Regions from separate parts of the Homo sapiens genome. Here region 1 is linked to region 2. A link means that fine-mapping ties the variant in region 2 to the expression of a gene that starts in the linked region. Tissue or cell type: whole blood. Region 2 holds a variant in brackets; the other region holds the start of a gene. All regions are shown on one strand. Distances are between the middles of the regions.

Region 1 (8,098 bases), 89 kb before region 2:
ACAGTTCTCCACAATGGCTTCACTAATTTACATTCCCACCAACAGAGCATAAGTGTTCCCTTTTCTTGGCATCCTTGTCAGCATTTATTTTTTGTCTTCTTGATAACACCAATTCTAACTGGGGTGAGATGATATCTCATTGTGGTTTTGATCTGCATTTCCCTGATGACTAGTGATACTGAGATTTTTCTCGTATGCCTGTTGGCCATTTGTATGTCTCTTGAGAAATGTCTATTCAGATCTTTTGCCTGATTTGTTTTTTCAAGACTGAGTTTCGCTCTTGTTGCCAAGCTGGAGTGCAATGGCACAATCTCGACTCACTGCAACCTCAGCCTCCCGGGTTCAAGCGATTCTCCTGCCTCAGCCTCCCGAGTAGCTGGGATTACAGGCGCCTGCCACCACGCCCACCTAATTTTTTGTATTTTTAGTAGAGACAGGGTTTTGCCATGTTGGCCAGGCTGTTCTCAAACTCCTGACCTCAAGAGATCCGCCCACTTTGGCCTCCCAAAGTGCTGGGATTACAGGCGTGAGCCACCGTGCCCGGCCTATTTATTTTTTAAACAGTGTCTTGCTCTGTCACCCAGACTGGAGTGCAGTGGCATCATATTGGCTCACTGCAACCTCTGCCTCCTGGGTTCAAGTGATTCTTCTGCATCAGTCTCCCAAGTAGCTGGGACTACAGGCATGCGCCACCATGCCTGGCTAATTTTGTATTTTTAGTAGAGACAGGGTTTCATCAAGTTGGCCAGGCTAGTCTCAAACTCCTAGACTCAAGTGATCTGCCCACCTCGGCCTTCCAAAATGCTGGGATTATGAGCTACTGCACCTGGTCACATTAAAAAAAATTTTTTTAGCAACAGGGTCTCACTGTATTGTGCAGGCTGGTCTCAAACTCCTGGTCTGGAGTGATTCTCTCACCTTGGCCTCCCAAAACTCTGGGATTGCAGGCGTGAGTCACCTTGCCCAGCCTGCTGGGAGTTTTTATCATGAAGAAGGGATGTCGAATTTTATCACATGCTTTCTCTGTATCTATTGAGATGACCATACGGTTTTTGTCCTTTAATCTGTGATTTGACGTATTGCATGTATTGATTTGCGTATGTTGAACCATCCTTGCATCCCCAGGATAAATCCCACTTAGTCATAATGTATTATCTTTCAATGTGCTATTAGATTCAATTTGCTAGTATGTTGTTGAGGATTTTTGTGTATCTATTCATCAGGAATATTGACCTGTAGTTTTCTTTTTTGTTGTTGTGTCCCTGCCTGGTTTGAGTATCAGGATAATGCTGGCCTCATAGAATGGGTCAGAGAGAATTCCCTCCTCTTCAGTTTTTTGGAACAGTTTAAGGAGAAATGGTATTAGTTCTTTTTTGTAAGTTTGGTAGAATTTAGTAGTAAAGCCATCTGGTCTATAGGCCTTTTGCGTTGTTGTTGGGAGATTTTTATTACTGTTCCAATCTCATCACTCCTTATTGATCTGTTCGGGTTTTTTTGTTTCTTCCTGATTCAATCTCGGCAGCTACGCGTGTCCAGGGATGTCTCCATTTCCTCCAGGTTTCCAGTTTCTGAGTGTATAATTTCTCATGTAGTCTCTGGTGATCTTTTGTATTTCTGTGATATCAGTTGTAATGTCTCTTTTTTGTTTCTGGTTTTGGTTATTTGGGTTGTCTCTCTTTTTTTCTTCATTATCAACTTAGAATATTTTCAGCTTCCATTTATGATGGGCTTATCAGGACATAGCTCCACCATGAGGTGAGGTGTGTCTGATGTGCTTACGGTGGGGTTTAAGTGCTCCCACAAGCCTGCTCTGACAGTCTGTACTTATTTGGGGTAAAAAACAAAAAAAAACAAAAAAAAAAAAAACAAAAAACTTAGCTCTGCTGACAAATAATGAGTCATATTTTCCCACAAAGTTAATTTTTGAAATAACAAAGGAAATTAAAGAAAAAATGTTCAGGCTGGGCACGGTGGCTCACACCTGTAATCCCAGCACTTTGGGAGGCCGAGGCAGGCAGATCACGAGGTCAGGAGATTGAGACCATCCTGGCTAACACGGTGAAACCCCGTCTCTACTAAAAATACAAAAAATTAGCTGGGCGTGGTGGCGGGCACCTGTAGTCCCAGCTACTCGGGAGGCTGAGGCAGGAGAATGGCGTGAACCTGGGAGGCAGAGCTTGCAGTGAGCCAAGATCACACCACTGCACTCCAGCCTGGGCGACAGAGCGAGACTCCGTCCAAAAAAAAAAAAAGTAAAATGACAGGAAAAGATATAACATTCAAACAGCAACTCAAAGAGAGGTGGAGTTCCTATACTAATATCAGAAAATATAGATATTAAGACAAAAATTATTGTTAGAGACAAAGAAGGATGTGTTATAATGATAAGAGGGTGATCCATAAGGAAGATATAATAACTAGAAACACATATGCACTAGCTGGGCACGGTGGCTCATGCCTGTAATCTCAGCACTTTGGGAGCCTGAGGCGGGTGGATCACGAGGTCAGGAGATTGAGACCATCCTGGCTAACACGGTGAAACCCCGTCTCTACTAAAAATACAAAAAATTAGCTGGGCATGGTGGCGGGCGCCTGTAGTCCCAGCTACTCTGGAGGCTGAGGCAGGAGAATGGCCTGAACCTGGGAGGCGGAGCTTGCAGTGAGCCGAGATGGCGCCACTACACTCCAGCCTGGGCGACAGAGCAAGACTCCATCTCAAAAAAAAAAAAAGTTTTGCTTCATGGGAAATCCCCAAAGTCCCTCCCCACACCCCATGGGACCAAAGGGCCCTAGACCTCAGGGTGGGGCCTGCAGCGCAGGGAGCAGAGCCGGCAAGGAGCTGCCCTCAGGTCGTTCCTGGCCACACAGCCAGCCTCGGAGCCACTGAGAGGCCTGCCCTGGGTCCCGAATCTAGACGCCCCTTCCAGCCTCAATCTTTCTTCCAGGGTAAGCAGCCTGAGAGGCCAAGAGGACAGTCCACCGAACCCTGAGCCCAAGGCCCAGGATTCCTTGCTTAAACATCCCCAAGCCTGGATCCATCCTCCCGAGGTAGAGCTGCCTGAGCTGTACCCAGTCCTGCTGGCCTGAGGGGCAGCCAGGGGAGGTGACGTGGTGCTTTTCTGGGGCTGCAATGAGCTCAGACCCACGGGCTGGGTGTAGCATGTGGGCTCATTGAGGCCCCTCACAATGTGGGGAAATCGGAGAGGGGACTGGCTGGGGCTGGCCCTCCTGCAAGGACTTCTGAGAGTGCTCCAAGGAGCCCTGGGGTCCTCCACTTGCCCCTGGCCTTCCAGGCCCTCACACACCATTGTTGTCCAGACAGAAGAGACTGGGCGCTGTGGTTCACGCCTGTAATCCCAGCACTTTGGGAGGCCGAGGCGGGTGGATCATCTGAGTTCAGGAGTTCGAGACCAGCCTGGCCAACATGGTGAAACCCCGTCTCTAATAAAAAATACAAAAATTAGCCGGGCGTGGTGGCACGTGCCTTAATCCCAGCTACTTGGGAGACAGAGGCAGGAGAATCGTATGAACTCGGGAGGCAGAAGTTGCAGTGAGCCGAGATAAAGCCGTTGCACTCAAACCTGGGGTACAAGAGCGAGACTTCTCTCAAAGGAAAAAGAAAAAAAAAAAGACAGAAGAGAACCTGTTCTGTCTAACTGCCTTTTGCTTGAGTGCAGGGAAGGCAGCCTCCCTTCATACTCATGCCCCAGCCCTGCAAATGTCACAGCAGGACCCACCTGGCTGCCCCTCCCCATACCCAGAGTAACCCTCACCCAGAGTCCCTGGAGGACCCAACCCTCGGGGGCATGCCTGGGGCCCAGCTGCATTCAGGCATCCAGCAACCCAGCCAGAGGGCTGGGGCTCCCCAACCATGGCCGGGAGGTAAGGGCTGAACCCAAGGCCAAATCAGAGCATCAGGAAGGTGAAGAGAGATCTGGGAGGGGCTAGGGAGAGGATGGATCTCTTCCCCATTCACTTCCTGGCCCACCCAGACTGGCCCCAGGGGTGCAGCTGACAGGCCCCACCCTTGGGAACTGCACCCTCCTGACTGGTGTCCTGCAGGCACCCTGAGGCCATCACCCTGGACCCCTGCCCTACATAGGCCTTACAAGGAGGAGCCAGGGTGGACACCCAGACCTCATTGAAAGTAGGAGTGTTCTCAAGGTCCCAGACCTTACTCAGGGACCCCAGTCGGGGGGTGGGGCAGTGGGAGGCAGAGCCCCTTGCTAGGAGCTTCTAGCCAGGCCCACCTTTTCAGATATGCCAGTGAGCAGCCCCAGCTTCGTTCTCCAAGATAAAGACCCTAGTTACCTCCATTGCTCAGCCTCCCTTGCAGCTAAGTGTAGCCATGTGACTAAGTTCTAGATCAAGTTCCAGATCACAGATAAGTGGAAGTGCCCTGTGGGACTTCCAGGAAGTCTCCTCTGGGATGTCCCTTATTCTCTGCTAAGAACACAGAGGCAATGGCTGAGTTCCAGCAGCCACTGTGAGGCCATGAAGGCAGGGATCCTAGGGACTGGGATCTGAGAGCCTGGCTCCCAATGGCAGTGGAGCAATGCCATCATCTCTAGCAAGGCCGTCTCTAGCCTGCCAGCCCCTGGACCTGCTTAGTGTTCGAGAGTAATGAACAACCTTGCTGAAGCCACTGTTCCTTAGGTGTCTGTGGCCTGCAGCTGAACTTGACTCCGATTCGTAGGCCCGCAACTGGAGGGCCTCTACCTCGAGGGAGTGGGGTGTAGATTTTTCCTGGAGGTGAAGGTTCTCAGCCCTACCCTCTAGCCCGCCCACCCAGCTCCAGCCGTCTGTTTCTGTCTCAGATGAGAGGGGGCCTCTCAGGACAAAGAGGAAGTAGCTGGAAGGGGAAGGAGCCAGCTGCAGAGAGGAGGAGGTGAGCTGCAGAGAAGAGGAGGTTGGTGTGGAGCACAGGCAGCACCGAGCCTGCCCCGTGAGCTGAGGGCCTGCAGTCTGCGGCTGGAATCAGGATAGACACCAAGGCAGGACCCCCAGAGGTATGTGCCAATGAGGCCAGGGCAGCTGAGAAAAGCCAGGCATGGGGAAAGGGCTGCTGTCTGCCTCCCTATGGCCTCAGCCTCCCAGCAACCCCAGGTCCAGAGAGTCACACAGCCTCCAGCTAGTCCTGTAGATGACTCGCTCCGTCCCCAGTCCGTGCAGCTGGGATAAGCTGGGCCCTGGCTCTCCAGCCAGGTGACAGCTGGGCCCTCTACCTCAGCCTGGGACTGGCAGCCATGCCTAATGCCCTGCAGGGCAGGAAATCTGGCACCTTCAGCCATGACCTCTGATGTCTGCAGGGTCTTACGCTATCTACCATGGGACCAGGGGGCTACAGCCCTACTCTGCAGGGGTCTCTCAGCTTGAGCCAACCTGGCTGGCGGTCCTCCCAGGTTCCATTGCAGGAGGAGGTGGTGAGGCGCTCTGGGGTCTGTAGTCCTGGGAGGGGACTTGGACAGGCTCCAAGTCTGAGATGGGGCCTGCAAGAGGCAGCGCCTCTGTGCTCTGAGCTGCCCGTCTGCCTGGAGCATTTAAGGGAGCAAAGGTCCTCTCTGGTGAGGGCAGGGAGTGTGGGGAGCAGCTGTCCAAGAACAGCCCTGGCACCTCGTTGCCCAGCCACAGCCCAGGATTCCATGTTTCCTCTCATTGACCAGCCACAGCCCAGGATTCCATGTTTCCTCTTCTGAGAGTTAGTGGGGGAGAGCAAAGGCCCGATGCTGGGCCCTGAATCCCTGGGGACAGTGGGGACACGGTGGGCACCCTGAGGTCTCCTCTGTGGGGTGGGGGGAGCATCCCCCAGAGTTCAGCTCTGGGGTGGGGGCGGCACCCACCCACCTCTGCAGGACCCCCCAGCGTGGGGGGAGTTGGGCCGCAGTGACTTGGCCTGAGTCCCCTGTCCCCACACTTGGTTTATGCTCCTACCCCCAATCCCCCATAACGCTTGGTCTCCAGGGCAGACTCAGTCCAGGCCCGACTCCTGTGGTGTTCCTGGCATTTCCGCCCCATGCTGAGGCAGGCCAGGTTCTCAAAGCCCTCAGCCCTGACCCGTGGGAGGACAGCCCAGACGAACCCCAGAGGCCTGGAGGCTGAGCTGGCTGCTCCTGGGTGGACAGCCGACCCACCGAGCCCTGGGTCCCAGCGCCCAGCCTGGCTGCAGACACTGGCACTCAGCACTGCCCAGGCCCAGGCCCCAAACCTCGGAGACATCCCCATCCCAGCCAGGGGCCAGCCAGCTCCTGCCCTGGTGGATGTCTCAGTCAGAGGCTGGCCAGCCAGGTGACCATGCTGGGCACAGACCCCTCCCTGCACCCGGGGAGGGCGCCTCTGTACTTGTGAGGCACCCTTCCCCCATGGTGGCACCTGGGGCAGCCTGACTGCTTGCTTTGGGGGTAGGAGTGGGGATGGGAGCCCACATCCCACAGGGCCCAGATGGCCTGGCTCCCAGCTCCTTGTGGGGTGACCACTCTGAGGAGATAAGGCGAGTCCCTGCAGCAGAGGACAACCCCCTCTGCCAGCAGTAGGGGTCCCACTCTGCCGCCATCTCTGCCCTCTCCACGCCTAGCCTCTCCAGCAAGGGTACTGCTCAGCTGCCCCCTCTGACCTGTGGCTCTCTGGAGGGGCTGCCGTGGGGCCAAGACAGGAGCCCAGCCCAGGAGGGAAGCAGTTATTTATAGGCCAGCAATAAGAGGACCAAGCGACAAAAGCAGAAACAGCCCTTTCAGACGCAGTTTCAGTTGTGGTTGAAACAGGGAACTGAGATGCAAATACCTAGATACTCACTGAGTGGGAGACCCTGAAAGGGGAGACACAGAAAGCCGGGGCATGTGGCTAGGCACAGACGCCCGCCCGCCCCTCGTGCTTGGCCCAGGCTCAGCCCTGGGGACCGCCTTAACAGCAGTCCTTCCGGCTTGGCCAGGGGGACAGGACAGGTGACATGTGGCCGGCTGCGGGCTCCAACACCCACACGGCTTGTCCTCGTGGAAAGCACACCCCCAACATCCAGGGCGTGACCTCGGGCATGAGTGGGGGGCTTTTGGGGGCTTATGTGGGTGTCTGTGCAGGGGTGTCCCCAGTGCCCAGCTGCCCAGGCACTGAGGGGCAGTTCTGGGCAGAGCTGGAGCTGCTGGTGATGCCAGGCTGCCCTGTGCAGATGCTGAAGCCTCTTTGGAAAGCAGCAGTGGCCCCCACATGGCCATGCTCCATGCCGCCCCGCCGCCCGTGGGACAGAGAGGCTGGCACGGTAGGACTGGGGGGCCCCAGGGGGGAGGTGGCTGGGATCAATGGCCTTTCAAGAGCTCCGAGCCAGAGTGGAGAGGTCACAAGCAGCCTTGAGGGGGCCTCCAAGCAGAGGTGCCCTGACTGGTGGGCAAGGGAAGCCTCCCTGGGCTGCTCCAGACCTTCCCTTTATGCCCCTGCTGGAGGTGCTGGGGACAGCCAGTTACCACGAGCCACAGCATTGCAGAGTGGGCTGCAGGCCCCCTGACCCCTGCCACCACCCTGGGCTGGGGGCCTTCTCTGTATCACCCTCCCCTCTCCCTTGTCCACCCTAGTCCCACCCCAGTGGCAGCCCAGGTCCGGGAAGTCAAGACGGTCTCTGTCTCAGCACTGGAGGGGCCATCGTGGCCCAGCCAGAAGTCAAGCCCCGCCCTGTCTGGTGACCCTGCGGGTGCTGCCCCATCCAGTTGCAGGTCCTGGGAGCGCTGGCTGTGCTGTGGCTGGGCTCCGTGGCTCTTATCTGCCTCCTGTGGCAAGTGCCCCGTCCTCCCACCTGGGGCCAGGTGCAGCCCAAGGACGTGCCCAGGTCCTGGGAGCATGGCTCCAGCCCAGCTTGGGAGCCCCTGGAAGCAGAGGCCAGGCAGCAGAGGGACTCCTGCCAGTAAGTGAGCCCATGGAGGCCTGCGGGGGCAGGTCTCAGTTTGGGGCTGCTGCCTGTGTTTCTGCCCTTGGATCTGCCCGTGAGATAAGGGGGGCCCTCTACCAGCTCCTCCAGGAAGGTGCAGGTCACCAGGGAGGGCCACGACCATATGAGCTGGAGTGGGGGCTGGGGACGGGGCAGGCGTGTGGTGCTTTTTGCAGCAAACAGAGGCTG
Region 2 (8,098 bases):
ACAGCAGCTGTTCTCTCCTGTCTGTGGTCCTTCCACAGACCCAGTCTGTTTTCCGACCAAGCACCCCTAAAGCGCTCAAAAGTCACATTCTCTGAGCAGTTTATAATTTTGAAGGCTACCAAAACAGGCACTACAACTACTACTAATGCTGAACAAATGATGTTTCTAAAAGATAAAAATGCTATACAGAAACAAAATAGTGCTTTAGATTTATTCCTATAAAACACATACCCTTTAAACTAGGGTCCATGAGGATTAACTTTCGACATCGGGGGCTGTCAGAGGTCGTGGACACCCCCAACTCCAGCCGGGCGCTGAACAATGTAAAAAGAATTTGCTCTGCAACCCTGTGGGGGGGGGAAATAAAAGTAACCCAGCGTCCATTTAATGCAGCCAAGTGCAATTCCTTTCCCCACCTTAGAAAGCACCACCAGATAATACAGCAGAACTGATCCTGCAGAAAGGTTGCTGGAGGGTCAGGCCGTGGTCGTAACTAACACCACATTCCCATTTTGTTTGCTGGATAATTTTTTAATAAAGTGAGGTTTACATCACTGATATTTAAGAATGGCTATATGCACAAAAGAAAACACACCTTTTTGGTTAAGGGGTGAGGAAGTTAGAGAAAGCATGAGAAACAGGGAGCATGTGGGGTGAGGCGGGGCAGGAGTGGAAGGCTGCAGGCACCCCCAGCTCACTCCCTGCCTGCGGCAGCACCCATGACACTACAGATCAAGGGGTTATGAATGACATGGATTCAGATTTCTTTCATTCTAGACTTCAACCTAGCCTTAACCTTTTGTTTCAGCACCAGTCTAACAGAGCAGCGCAGGCGTTTCTCATCCAGCAGCAATGCTACTTCCTCACCCAGGGCAGGTGCATGGGCTGACCCTGATGGGAGCCTCCAGGAACACTGCCTTGAGAAGGCACCACCGAGGGGCTATGAGGTCCCTGAAGACCAACTGGTGCCTGTGATCTACAAACAGACAAATATTTGACCTTTGTCTTCAATGACATTTACATATAAATAGACATAAATAAAATCCTCCATAATTTACTCTTAGGTCTAGGAAGATGTGGCTGTGTGCGGCTCCTGATTTTCACCCAGGTCTCACTGCAGCGCAGGACATAATGAAGAAGTATCACACACACATTTAAAGTAAAACATGATACATTCACACTGTTGACTGAGACTGTAGTGATGCTCACTGCAAAAAACAAAACAAAACAAAAAACCCTTATTTAAACCTTAAAAAAATGAAACACACCAACTGCAATTGTTTAGGCTATAAAAGTTCTAATGTAGCAGCAAAGGATGTTTATAGAAAAAATATACTTTTAAGAAAATAGCTGAAAAAATCTAAAGAGATAAGGTATAAAAAGTTTAAAAAATATATCTTAAGACAAAATACTGCCCAAAACATGTAAAACTGAATTGTAAAAATTCACCTATCTAAAGGTAAAAGGAGGTTGATGCAGCTGCGGCTCACCGTCCTCTACAGTGGGGGACACAAAGAGACACGAGGGGCCCAGGGCTGTGGGGACGTCAGAAGACAAGAAGCCTTCCAGAACAGCCTCTGCCTGGCGCTCCACAGGGGGGAGGTGAGTGGGACGGGCCTAGGGCTGCAGCCCCACTGGTAATGGGCTGTTCTGGGATTTCTCAGAATCAGCAGACAGGGCAGCAAGGCTGGGCCGCTGGCGGCAGGCGCACCCTCCGTGGGAGCCAGTGCTCACGTGTCAATGCGTCAGAGGCGGCTGTGAGCACTCAGGGCTCCTGCTCAGGTCTCCACCAGGATCTCCACCACGTGGTCCAGCTCGCCCAGGTCGGACTTGCAGCTGGAGCTAGGGCCTGGGGTGGCCGGAGCCAAGCCCTCGAGCCCTTCGCAGGGGCCCGGCCTGGCACCCCCCATCATGCCTGTCAGTACTGTGTCCAGGTCGTAGTAGGGGCTGTCCACGTCTGAGAACAGCTCTTCCATGCAGCTGGGGTTTTTAGTCTCCAGCGTTTCAAATATCTGATCAAGTGACTTGTGAAAGCTTCCTCTGTTTTCTCGAGGGCCATCCATCTCCCAGGCGCTGCTCTGCAGGTGCCTTGGTGCCTGTGCTGAGGTGACTGGGCAAAGGTCAGAAACTGGACCCTGTGTGTGGCCGTCCCCCAAGCCAGGAGCAGGATGTGCCCCCTCTTGCCCCCACGCTGCACGGCACAGGATCTCCGTGGAGACCAAGCGGTCGAGCGGCGCCCGCTCTGCAGCCTGGGGTGCCACTGTGCGCCACGTCCCATCCTGCGTCATCTCCTCTTGGATCTGCCGGACCGTGTTGGCAATGAGGACTGAGCGGCACAGGTTGGGCTCCACAAGCATGTGGCAAAGCTGCAACTTCACCAGAGACATGTCCAGGAGCGACTGCCGCTGCAGGCTGTATGAGGACACTGTCTTCAAGCCGGCCAGGGCTCCCTCCACGTCTTCCTCGTGGCCAACACATTTCCTCTTCAGTCCTCGTGCAAACATTGTGTCCTGCAGAAACCAAGGAAGACACCACTTAGCACACGGCAGACTCTCTGCGGACAGCGCCCCTTGGATTTCGTCTGACTGCCCTCACTGTACGCAAGGAGCAGCGACTCCGTAACTGGCAGGGACTTGACAGAGCTGTAACTCCCTAACAGAGCTGAGACGTGGAGCCCAGTGGGAGACCCCCACCCCCAGATCAGCTGCCATCCTGCCTAAGCCAGGCACAGTCACGTTGTTAGAAACGACAAACCTCTCAACTGTACCACGACAGTGTTTTATAGCAAAAAAGATAAATGAACTAAAAATAGGAGAAATATATAAGAGAAATGTAAGTGTTCGAGAGCTTGGCTGAAAATCTGTTTCAAAAATCTAACTGTGGTGTGTACAAAAGAAGAGACCCTGGGGTAACATGAGATTAATGTGAACCGTGCCAGCCTGCAGAGGGCGCAGGGCGGGGGCCGGACAGGGCCGGGCACACACACGTACCATTCTGACTTCCCTCAGGATCCTGCCTCGGACAAAGTCACTTCTGCGTTCAGAAGAGTTAGTGCCTTCCCCCTCAATGCTTTCACTAAAAGCCTCTATATGTCGCAGACAGCCGGGCTGGAAAGCTGTGCCACCAGGAACGCGCAGGGGAAGGACTGCAGGGCTGTATGCTCATCCCATGCAGCGAGTGGTCTGTGTTTCGTGCACAATTCTCCAAGGGACACAGGGTCTCCTGGCCGAGCCTATGTGGCCCTGGACAGTCCCTTGCTCCCACACCCGCCCATGCTGCCTGCCTTAGGGATCACACCCATTCCTTGGCTCCCCCCACCCGCCCCACCAGTTCATTTCTCCCAAGGTGCACAGGCTCTGCCTGGCTGCTTTCTACTTGACATCTCTCAGGTCAATGCCCTCCACTCGAGAGCTCTGACCAGCCCGTACAACCATG[G/A]CCTCAGGGGCCACCTCCCCTCTCATCTCAACTCCTTTCTCTTCAAAGGAACCAAAACATGGCAGGGTATGTGTGTGTCCGGGGCAGGGGGGGTGGGTTCCTCACCAGTGTGTTGTGGCAGCCCAGAGCTGGCCAAGGCAGTGTTTCTCGGCGTATGCCTCAGCACTGGCGCTGTTGGTTGAAGATGCAGATTCCTGGATCTTACCCCAGACCTGGGCAACTCCGGGATGGCACCTAAGGCTCAGCCTTGCTGGGCAGGTTCCACTAAGACGCACAGCACAGATGCACTAGATGGACATTGGCCATGTCTACTCTCAGAAGTACAAGTCTGTGCAAACTGTTTTTTTTTTTTTTTAACTGATTCTAAATTGGGACATCTCTGGGGCACTAAAGGCAGAGCAGACAGGAGGGTGGGCTCTGGCTTTTGACAGATGCCATTCTGAGCCAGTGCCGCCTGCGGGGAGCTGGGAGGATGACAGCTGGCTCAGGGCCATACTGGCCGGCAGAGTCTGACAGGACAAGCATCTCACGCATGATTAAGTTTCTCTCTTCTCATGCTTGTAATGTAGTGAAATATTATTTCAAATAATTCAAGTTATGCATAAATAGGGTTACAATCTTTTGAATATGCAAACTTTGGAACTTCTTTTTCTCTTAGTCAATCTGATGGCTCCCTGTGACCAGGGTATACCCAGGTGCTCTTGGAAAGCTGGCGTATGGGAGGCACATGCTGTCTCTGCTCGGGGTCTGGAGACCAAGGATGGGAAGTTTTGCAGTGCGGGAGAACTGGCTGCCAAACATACCCCTTCCCAGGAGCCCCTCTGGAGGCTCCCACCTGCTGGTCCTACCCTTGAATTAACAGAAGAAAGGGTCCCCCTGTTCTCTGAATTTCCCTTCAGTGTCACAGATCTCATCCCCGTGCCTTTAACACATGTAAATTTTAAAAAACTAAGTGACCTCTTGGGCATTTATCCCAGAGAAAAAGCCAATGTTCATGCAAAAAACATGTTCCAGAATGTGCACAGCAGCTTTATTTGTAGTAGCTCCAAATCTGAAACAAGGAAAATGTACCCTTCACCTGGGCACGGTGACACACACTCTGCTCCATTCATGCCACCAAATCCTACTCTGCAATAGAAAGAAATGAACTGTTGATACACAGGACGGATCCTTCCACAGGGGCATTAGGCTGAGGGAGAAAAGCCAACCTCAGAAGGGTGCTTGCTATGGGATCCCATTTATGCCACATTGTCATGCTGACCCAGAGCTGAGGGGTGGCAGGGCTAGAAAGGAACCTGCGCAGGGAGATCTTGGGGGTGAGGGCCCTTCTGCTCCTGGGCTGTGGGGGTGGCCCTACCCTGACTGCACAGCGCCGGACACGCACACATGCGCCTGCGGCAGCCGTGTCATCACACGGACCTGGGGCCTGGCTGTGCATCCTACAAGGATGCCGGCCCTGGGGAGCAGAGGAAGGGCACATAGGACCTCCTGAACACTGCTCTGCAACCTCCCCTGGCTCTACAATTATTTCAAAATTAAAATTAAAGGAAAACTTCCCTAACCCTAGCTTATTTCCCCTACAGCACCCATTTCCCCAGAGCAGCATGCCAGTGTCACCACAGGCACAGCCCTCAGGCTGGGCACCGCCTCTCACACCTGCATACACCAGCTTCTCAACTAATTCTAAATGAAGGACAGTTTACCACCAAAACACATTTACACATTTCTATTACTTTTGGTAAATATTCGAGTTCTTTGTGTCAGCCACAAATTTAACTTTTCAGAGCTTTTCCATCCCAATCCATTGTTTAAATCACTGGCTTAAAATTGCTAAGTATATCGAGAATTAACATAAGGCTATGTCAAACTACAAAGGACACCCTGCGTTGGGGAAAAGATTAAGTCCCACGGGTTCCTCTGTGGGAAGTCAATATACCTTTTAGGTTTTTAGTTTCTCTTTCAACCTATCTCAATCCCAAGCCTGCATAGCAATGGATTAATTTAGGACCCAAACCAAATCCTCTTGAACAGCATGCATTAAGCCCAAGTTTATAGACAGAAGAACCCCTGGCTGCCTCCCCTGACTCTGGAAACCCAGCAGCACAACCCCCATAATGTGGGGCCTACAGGAGGTCAGCACGACTGAGCAGGGCAATCAGGGCAACTCACAGAAGGAACAAGAATACCAATGGGACAGGCCAAGAAGACCCACAACCACACTGGGAACCAGTTCAAGAAGCTGTCCCAAGCTCCTAGGACCCTCTGGGTCCCACTTTCCTTTCCTCTGAGTCCTTAGAAATGCCAGGTCCTGAGTCCAAACCCAACGACAGACCCTCCCGCCCTTTTCTGAAAGCCAGATATGGATACTAGAAGCCTCCCACTGGGGATCTTAAGAGGATGAATTCAGTGCTTGGCCTGGTGCTGTCAGCGGTCCTAAGGGCAGCACTAGCAATACGTGACCGTCAGAAATCACCCTAATAACATCTGCTCTGAGCGAGGGAATATACCAACAAACAATGGCGGAACCACATACAGAAACAGAACTCTCAGCCATTATCTGCCGCCATCAGTCGGAAACCAGCCCTTTACCTTCAGTAACGGGCCAGGAAGCCAGGTTGCCCTAGTCAGACCTGCAGGAAGCCTGGCTGCTTTCTCTAGGAACAATCCAGGAAGCTAAACAATCATTTCCATAGCAAGCAGCCCAAAATGGCCAGGACATGATTAGTAACCGACAACCTCTCCAGTTTTTGTCCCTGCTTCCAATTTAGGACCAACCAGAGAAAGCCAAACATGTTCTAGGCCATCTCACAGGAGCCCCACTTCTTTGTTGTTGTTGTTGTGTCGCCCAGGCTGGAGTGCAGTGGCGCAATCTCAGCTCACCGCAACCTCCGCCTCCCAGGTTCAAGGGATTCTCCTGCCTCAGCCTCCCGAGTAGCTGGGATTACAAGGGTGTACCACCAGGCCTGGCTAATTTTTATATTTTCAGTAGAGACTTACCATGTTGGTCAGGCTGGTCTCAAAACTCCTGACCTCGGGTGATCCACTCACCTTGGCCTCCCAAAGTGCTGGGACTACAGGCGTCAGCCACCGTGCCAGGCCAGGAGCCCCACTTCTAACTGGCCACCCCAGTCCCCCAAGTCAGCAGCCTCCATCAGCCATCCCTGAGCTTCCCTGGATTCCACTGTAAAGCTCTCCTGTTCCCTCACCTGCCTATGAGTTTCTGCCAATCACGAGAGAGGAGGGCCGCACCCTTGCTAGGGGAAGCTCTGGATAAACAGCCTCTGCCTGTTCTCACCTGGTTGCTTATTTCCACAGCTCACCATAGACAATCTGGAAGAGCATCAAAAACCATAAAACGAATTTTCTCCCAGGATCCCATCCACTCAGAAAAACACAGTCACCACCTGGGTTCCTCCTTTCCAGTCGTTTCTCCCAGCACTTTCCTCTCTGCACAAGGGAGGGAAGTTTCACACTACTGACAATTTTCCCAATCACAAATGATACCAGTTTCTAACTTTAGGTGTTTTGGTATTTCTAGCATTTGGCTTCCTTAGCCTCGGCTCTTTACTTACTAGGGTGATGTGCAGGTACATTTTTAAGAGGCTTGATAAACATTATTAAACTGCATCCTAAGAAGGTGGAACGCTCCACCAACTTTCTCCCGCACTATTTCTGCACACTTGCTGGTAAAGCTTCCTCTTGTTTTGCCAAGTCTCTAAGCCCCACAGCTAAGCGTTCCTTCCCTCCTCCACTGAGCTCCACGTCTGTGTTCCTACCCTGTTCCACGGCTGCTCTCCTGCCAGGACCAGACACCCTGGCCTCCCTGTGTAGGTCCTTTTCTGGCCATGCCACCCTTCAGCTCTGGGTCAGCCCAACAATGTGGCATAAATGGGATCCCACAGCAAGCACCCTTCTGAGGTTGGCTTTTCTCCTTCAGCATAATTCTCTTGAGATCCTTGCAAACTCTTGTGTGTCAACAGTTCCCAACAGAGTAGGATCTGGAGGCACAGACGGAGCAGAGTGTCACCACACCCCAGCTGAAGGGAACTTTTTCCTTGTTTCCAGTTTGGAGTTATTACACATAAAGCTGCTATGGACATTCTAGAACATGTTTTTGCATGAACATTGGTTTTTCATTTCTCTTGGATAAATGCCAAAGAAATAATCGTTTTATAAAATTTAGGAGTGTTAAATGCACAGGCAATGAGATCTATCACACCGAAAAGAAATTCAGAGAACAGGGGGAACCTTTTTTCTGTCTATTCAAGGACAGGACCAGCAGGTGTGAGCCTCCAGAGAGGCTCCTGGGGAGGTGGGGGGCGGTCCTTGGCCTAGTTTCATCACTCTCAGTTGTAAGCATTCTTTTTTTTTTTAGATGGAGTCTCACTGTCGCCCAGGCTGGAGTGCAGTGGTGCAATCTCGGCTCACTGCAACCTCCACCTCCTAGGTTCAAGCGATTCTCCTGCCTCATCTTCCCTCAACTTCCCGAGTAGCTGGGATTATAGGCGTGCACCACCACGCCCAGCTAGTTTTTTGTATTTTTAATAGAGCCGGGGTTTCGCCATGTTGGCCAGGCTGGTCTCGAACTCCTGACATCAAGTGATTTGCCCACCTCGGCCTCCCAAAGTGCTAGGATTACAGGAGTGAGCCATCACACCCAGCC

What was found. PIP is the estimated chance that this variant, and not a neighbour inherited with it, causes the effect.
Region 1: PLD4 starts here. The variant in region 2 is fine-mapped to the expression of PLD4 in whole blood (INTERVAL, PIP above 0.99).

What each region holds. Positions count from the first base shown.
Region 1 is chr14:104,919,982-104,928,079 of GRCh38, forward strand. It overlaps PLD4 (phospholipase D family member 4), which reads left to right and starts at 4,898. Exons shown (of 11, transcript NM_138790.5): 1 at 4,898-5,009; 2 at 7,160-7,249; 3 at 7,692-7,885. The coding sequence starts at 7,160. RefSeq lists enhancers at 2,627-2,676, 5,071-5,240, 5,223-5,732.
Region 2 is chr14:105,009,426-105,017,523 of GRCh38, forward strand. It overlaps CDCA4 (cell division cycle associated 4), which reads right to left. Exons shown (of 2, transcript NM_017955.4): 2 at 148-2,510. The coding sequence starts at 2,504. The coding sequence ends at 1,779. Among named protein-coding and RNA genes, the nearest start is that of CDCA4, 7.6 kb to the right of the region's middle. The variant G/A (reference allele first, on the strand shown) is at 3,436.